Homo sapiens: one gene and its partner. The protein of the gene in region 1 purifies or fractionates together with the protein of each later gene. This does not show direct contact. Each region holds a gene or a part of one and is shown on either strand. Other genes may lie near its edges. The genes, in order: CACNA1H and KLHL1.

Region 1 (3,486 bases):
TGCCGTGACGAGGGTCGTGGTGGCATGGGACTTGTGTCTGGCAAGGTCTCCCATCCCCCCAGTGCAGGGCCTGGTGCCCCAACCTTCTCTGAAGCCTGTTCCCCCCACCCCAGAGCCTCTGCCACCCCCGTACAGCCTGCGGGAGGTGAAAGTCTCCGTGGTGGACACAGAGACCTGCCGCCGGGACTATCCCGGCCCCGGGGGCAGCATCCTTCAGCCCGACATGCTGTGTGCCCGGGGCCCCGGGGATGCCTGCCAGGTGAGCCTGCCAGGCCGTGACAGAGGATGGGGGCGGCTGAAGCCCAGGGAGGGGCTCCCCATCTTCTCGGCTCCCAATGCTCGCCTTCTCTGTCCTCAGGACGACTCCGGGGGGCCTCTGGTCTGCCAGGTGAACGGTGCCTGGGTGCAGGCTGGCACTGTGAGCTGGGGTGAGGGCTGCGGCCGCCCCAACAGGCCGGGAGTCTACACTCGTGTCCCTGCCTACGTGAACTGGATCCGCCGCCACATCACAGCATCAGGGGGCTCAGAGTCTGGGTACCCCAGGCTCCCCCTCCTGGCTGGCTTCTTCCTCCCCGGCCTCTTCCTTCTGCTAGTCTCCTGTGTCCTGCTGGCCAAGTGCCTGCTGCACCCATCTGCGGATGGTACTCCCTTCCCCGCCCCTGACTGATGGCAGGAATCCAAGTGCATTTCTTAAATAAGTTACTATTTATTCCGCTCCGCCCCCTCCCTCTCCCTTGAGAAGCTGAGTCTTCTGCATCAGATTATTGCAACATTTAACCTGAATTTAAAAGCACACGAAACAAAGGTGTCAATGGGAATCTCGCGGCCAACGCCCCCAGATGTAGGGGAGGCCTGATTCGCATCGGGGCCGGGCGCGTTACTCCATGGGGTCGGCCCCTTAGTGAGGTGTCACCTCTCCCAGAGTCACAGGACGCTTCTGGGAAGGCCCGAGCGGAACGGAAAGGGTGGTGGCTGGAAGGGGAGGGTGGTGAGGGCGTGACAGGCGGACAAGAACTCAGACTGTGAGTGAAGGTGACATTGGGCCGCGGTGGCTGCAACCTGCCGCCGGCAAGGGCACAGGGCCCCCAGCGAGTGTCCTGTAACAACGCGGGGCCTGAAAGGACGCAACCTGGTACCTTCCCCTCTCTGGCGGGTGCCCGGTCTTCGTCCCACAGACGCGGCTTCTCTCCTGACGGGAGGCTGACCCAGTTGCCCGCACAGCCTCGGCTGGTAGCAAAACTCGGAGAAACCCGAACCAGAACGGACGGAGGCTCGTGGGGCCCGGCAGCTACTCCTGCTTCGCTGGGCAGAGAACCAGGGCCTGGGCCGTCATCCTCCCCGGGCCTTTCTGCTCACGACGGGACCCAAGTCAGGGTCCATGCAGGGTTCTGCCTGGGCCTCCACCCCAGCGGGGCCCCCAGACCCCAGGGCCAAAGCCGTGGGCGGCACCAAGCCCCGAGCTACACGGGGTCATCTGCACCACCCCCTGGGGCAGGGGTGGCTGAGGGGGACCCTGGTTTCTCCAGAGGACACTGGGGGACTGTGAGGTACAGCCCCCGCCTCTTCTCTGGGGGGTCACCGACGGGCATGGGAGGCTCTGATTCTGGGGGTTCCAGGGGCACTATGGCCCCTGAAGAGGAAGCTCTGGATTCTGGGGTCACACTGTGGCTACCGTCCAAGAAAGGGTCTCCACTGGGGACCCCGAGGTCCAGCGGCTCAAAGGCAAAGCTGGGGACGGTCAGGTGCTCAGCCCGGCAGGAGGCCTGGCCCCAGCGCTCCCCCTTGGCTGCAGGGTCCCCCCCGGCGCCTGAGCCCTCTGTGGGCTCCAGGGAGTCCCTGTGAGGCGTGGCCTCACAGGACGGGGTCCTGCGCCTCAGTGTGGTGCTGCCGCCCTCTGCCGCGGAGGGCCGCGCAGAGCCCTCGTCCTCCGCAGGGGGTTCCACCGAGATGCAGGGGGGGCTCATCTTCTTCTTTCTGCGCGCACCCAGAGCGGGCTCGGCCTCAGGGCCCCAGGCCTTCGCCTCCCCAGGCTCCCCGCTGCCCAGCTCCGCCGAGGGCCGCCACTGCTCGTCTGCCCGGCCCGGCTTGTCCAGGAAGCCCTGAGCATCCACGCTGTAGAGCCTGCGCAGGTCCCGCTCGCCGCCGGCCACCGGAGAGGCTTCGGGGCCATGGGGCTCGGCTGTGGGCTGCCAGGGGCAGGCGGAGCTGGTGATGTGGCTGACCTCCTCGTCGGCTGGGTCCGAGGCCTCGGCCTCCTCTCCGCCTGGGGCCGCCGGCCGGCTGGAGACGCAGCGCTGTCCGAAGGTATGCTTACGAGTGCGGACGCTGGCGGGCCGTGGGGAGCGTGGTGGGGACTGCAGGGAGCCCCCCTGGGTCACCGGCCTCACCGGGGTTTTCTCACCAGGCTCTGCAGGATCCAGGGTGTCCCTAGGGCTGTCAATCTTCCCTTCCAAGGAATCGGTGTGCACAGCCTCCTGTGGGGGCGTAGAGTCAAAGTGAGGGGCGGGGCCCTGGGAGAGCCCTGTCAGTGGCCAGGGCTCGGAGACCCCTCACCATCCAGGTACTGGAGAGGCCAAACTGGGCAGGTCCCCTGGGTGGCTCCTGACCCTCGAGATGGGGCTGGAAGCCGCTGGTGTGGACGTCCTAGTCTCACTCCTGACCTGTGAGGCTCCCGGGGAAAGCCTGTACCCGCTGCTCTGTGGGCAGAGATGCCATGGCCCCCAGGGGCACAGAGCTGAGGCTGAGGCCACCTCCCCACCCCTGGACATCAGCAGCCCAGCTGGGCACCCCCAGGATGGGGCTCTCCTAACTGCTCCTGTGCGGTACAGGCGTCTTGTACTGGGCAGCAAGAGGTAGGAAAGGGCAGGAAGAGGAGCTGAGGCTGCAGGTGGGCAAGGCTGGGACATCTGAACACAAGCCAGGACTGAAAAAGCCGCTGTCTGCCCACCACGGGACCCATGCCCACATGGGGCCTGAGAAACTGCCATCTGCCCGCCGTGGGCCCTGGGAAACTGCTGTCTGCCCACCACGGGACCTGAGAAACCGCTGTCTGCCCACCGTGGGGCCTGAAGCTGTGGGTCCAAGAAGACTCAGGTCCCTGTAGCCAAGAGCTCTGTAGCCACAGGCTCACAGGCCTGAAGACGCACCTGGGCCCAATGCTCCAAGATCCACCAAGCAGCAGGCAGAAACCTTCGGAGCCCCAAGGACCCAGTGCGACCCTCCTCCTGCCTTGTCCTCGTCTGCTGGTCCTTCAGATGAGACGAGGCATCCCTGCAAGCCCCCCATCCCCGCCAGCCTCTGCTGCAGGCCAACGGCTTCTCCTACCTGTCTGCAGAGCAGCCGGCTGAGACTGGGGGAGCGGGCTGTGCCCCGAGGGGACAGGGCGTGGAGGGGCTCGCCGCTCCTGGCTGGGGACGACACAGCCAATGGGATCTGGAGGGAGGCACAGGACTCTGCGGGCGGAGAGTGCACAGAGGCAACGGAGCC
Region 2 (3,501 bases), on another chromosome or scaffold:
TAAATAGTTTCCATCTAGGAGTGCAGTGCAGCTCTAAAGCTTTATTTAATTGAAGCAGAATAATAACCACATCTCCTCATATTGCCTCAGTGGGTGGAAGGATCTGATTTTGGTCAAAGAAATTGACTACAATTTATCTAAAGAACTTGAACACCTGATTAAAGTACATTTGTTTTAAAGATATTTACTTTTAATGAAACATGATTTCCTTGATTTTGCAAGTTTTGATGGTATGCATTCAGCAACAATATTTTTTAGTCAGACTAACTTCGGAGTACAAAACCAAATTCCTAATGGCTAGACTAAGGTATCTGCATTATGAATTTCTTCTCCTCTAAAGGAAAACTCTTGACTTCACCAAAAATAGGTACATTTAGCCAAGTAAGTAAAAAGAAGGAGTAGAGAAAAGAAGGGGAAATATCAAGAGATCTAAGTCTTGTTATTTTCTACATTTTAATTGCTAGAGAAGAAGCATTTCTTATTCAGAGAGCACTGTATGTAAAAAAAAAATAAAAGCAAGTAATGATTGCTTTTCACATTATTGCACTAAAATTTCGAAGGATATATTTTGACTGTACCTTTCTGAGTCCCTAGTGTTTCCAAAGCAAACCCTGCATGCATTAATTAATGATTGCTGACTTGCTAAGGAAATGTACTAGTTAAATGGTGTGTATTTTAAATGTTCCACTTAAAAGAACATTAAATAAAGGAAGTTTATGTTTATATAAATGATGTAATATAATATCTGAATACATATTTATAATAAAGAGACATTATGCTTATCATCCTCTAAAATTGAAATCAAAACAATATATGTAGTAGGTAGTAATAGGTAAAAGACTCCTAAAGATCATTTTCCTTCATCTGTATTTTATTATACTTTTTTGGATCATATAGTATTTTACAAACAGCAAAGTGGCATTTAAAATATTTTATAACAACTTTATTTTAATACAGTAAACATTAAATTTAAAACTGTTAAGTTACTTTAAGATTTTGCTTCTGTATCTTCTCATTATTTATATTTTTAAGACTCTCAAGGGATGAGCAGCCAACCCACACAAAATCCCTTTAAAAATTTTCAGGATTCTAGCCTACTTGAAAAGTTTTCCATATTTGCTAAATTCCTGTCACTTTCACTCCATATGTCCTGTAAGTGGACTAAATTGGTTATTCCATATAATATTAGCAGCCACAAATGGCTGATTATTAAATAAGCAAACTATATTAAAATATCCAAATATGTGAATATTTGGAAAAAAACTCAGTTTAGCTTGAGTTGGAAATAGATTAGGAATCGATTAACAGTTTTGTGCTTTTGTTTTACAGAGAATGCATACACACACCATATGTATAGATACACGTGTGTATCTATGTATGTTTTAAATAAATTTGACTTTTGTCATTGAACACCGAGCTTATTTTTTGTGTTTGATTTGAAAAAAATAATGCACGTGCTTCAAGACATAAAGAGAACTTTATTCCATTTCTCCTAGCCTAAGTAAAATTGCCCTTTAATAATGTATTATCTTGGTATACTGCCATAGTACTATCATGCTGCATTCATCTACAGGTCATAAGGAATCAAAGACAATGTGTCATTTATTAACCTGTCTCTAAAGACTAGTATAGTTTCTGGCTGGGAGTAGGAGGTAATATGAATGTATCTCAAATAAATTGAGAACTATTGTGCAACTAAGTGTACTTTTTGTGTATGCATTTCATTTATTTGTAGACAATAGATATATAAGATATATTGATAATGATATATTGAGAATTTTGTTACAGAGAAGCCTGGTGAAATATCTACATTCAGCGTTACTTTTATTTCATTGGTTCTGTGGCCAACCTTTTTAGCTTATCATATTACTCATGCTGAAAGGTACAACCCCTGGAGGGAGAACAAAGGCAGATTTTTAAAAATGTATATTAAATAAATCTGGACCAAGAGAAAAGAAGGAAAACTTTTCTTAAACATTGAAAATGTACTTATGTGGAAAAATACCAAATGTTTAAAATAGCATGATTAATTATTTGGTAAGAGAATAGCACTATGATAGAACTTAAGTGCACTGGGCAGAGAAATCTTCTTTCAGGAAATATGTGGAATGAGGCCTGACAAATGAGTAATAGCTAACCAGATGAAAATATGTGGAGTGCTTTGGCTTAAGGAACATCATTGGTAAGAGCCAGAGGAAGAACACGTGGTATGTCTCACTGAGCAAGAAACAGAATTGTTAAGTTTTGAGAGATAGATGTGGTTTACATTATGTAACCTGAGCTATGTGGAAGACTGAATAAATGGATAGAATTAAACTTGTTGGAGAGATATTTAGAGGGCTTGCTGATTCAGATTTAGAGTTGAGTAAGGTAAAAAGAAGGGTCAAGGATTCTATCTTGAACAACTGGATGGAGAGGGGTGTCATTCACTGACATAAGAAACACAAGGGGAATATCACATTTTGTTTTTTGAAAAAACAGAAAGGATTCATTTTCACATGCACACATACACACATGCATCTATAGAGATAGAGGTATAAATGTAGATGAAGATATAAAGTTAAGCTACTCACTCTATATGTAGTCCAGTACACAGTACTGAGTATTGAATGGACATCAGGGAGCCTTTGGGAAAGTTGCCAAAAATACAATTACCCAATATAATCCCATTTCCATTTAGTGATAGGGCTTGTGAACATATACAGTCATGCGTTCCTTAAAAATGAAATACAATCTGAGAAATTCATCCTTAGGCAATTTCATCATTGTGCACGTATTACAAAGTATACTTAGACCAACCCAGATGGTATGGCCTACTACACACTGAGGCTGTATGATATAACCTATTGCTCCTAGGTTACAAAGCTATATAAGTATGTTACCGTAATGAGTATTCTAGGTAATTGCAACAGAATGGTGTTTGTTTGTGTATCGAACATATCTAAACATAGTAAAGGTACTGTAGAAATATGGTATAAAAGATAAAAAGTGGTACACACCTCTTTTATTTAACCTGAATGAAGCTTGCAGGACTAGAAATTGCCCTGGGTGAGTCAGTGACAGAGTCATGAGTGAAAATGAGGGGCTTGGACATTACTATATGCTACTGCAGACTTAAAAAACTCTCTACACTTAGGCTACACTAAACTTATTTTAAAATATTTTTCTTTCTTTAATAATAAATTAACCTTAGCTTACTGTAATTTTTTTTTTTACTTTTTAAACTCTTAAATTTTTAAAAACTTTTTGACTCTTTTATAGTAATAGTTACATTAAAGCACAAACACATTGTCCAGCTGTATAATTTTTTTTCTTTATATCCTTATTCTATGAGCTTTTTTCCATTTTCAAAAAAGCGGTACAACAGGTTTGTTTACACCAGTTTCACCACAGACATTTGAGTAATGCGTTGTGCTTTCATGTTAAGAGGGCTATGACATTACCAGACGATGGAATTTTTCAGCTCCATTATAATCTTATGGGACCACCATTGTATATGTG

Evidence for each region.
Region 2: the proteins of CACNA1H (region 1) and KLHL1 purify together in Homo sapiens (affinity purification with western blotting, with the first as the bait; one study listed by BioGRID). This does not show direct contact.

Annotation. Positions count from the first base shown.
Region 1 is NC_000016.10:1,218,969-1,222,454, reverse strand, and holds the end of CACNA1H (voltage-dependent T-type calcium channel subunit alpha-1H), read right to left. Parts: intron 3,486-3,486; coding exon 3,325-3,485; coding exon of another isoform or gene 3,147-3,324; intron 2,475-3,146; coding exon 1,461-2,474; 3' UTR 687-1,460; downstream 1-686. Other genes in the region: TPSG1 (tryptase gamma preproprotein), read left to right, coding at 114-259, 359-667.
Region 2 is NC_000013.11:69,703,163-69,706,663, reverse strand, and holds part of KLHL1 (kelch-like protein 1), read left to right. Parts: intron 1-3,501.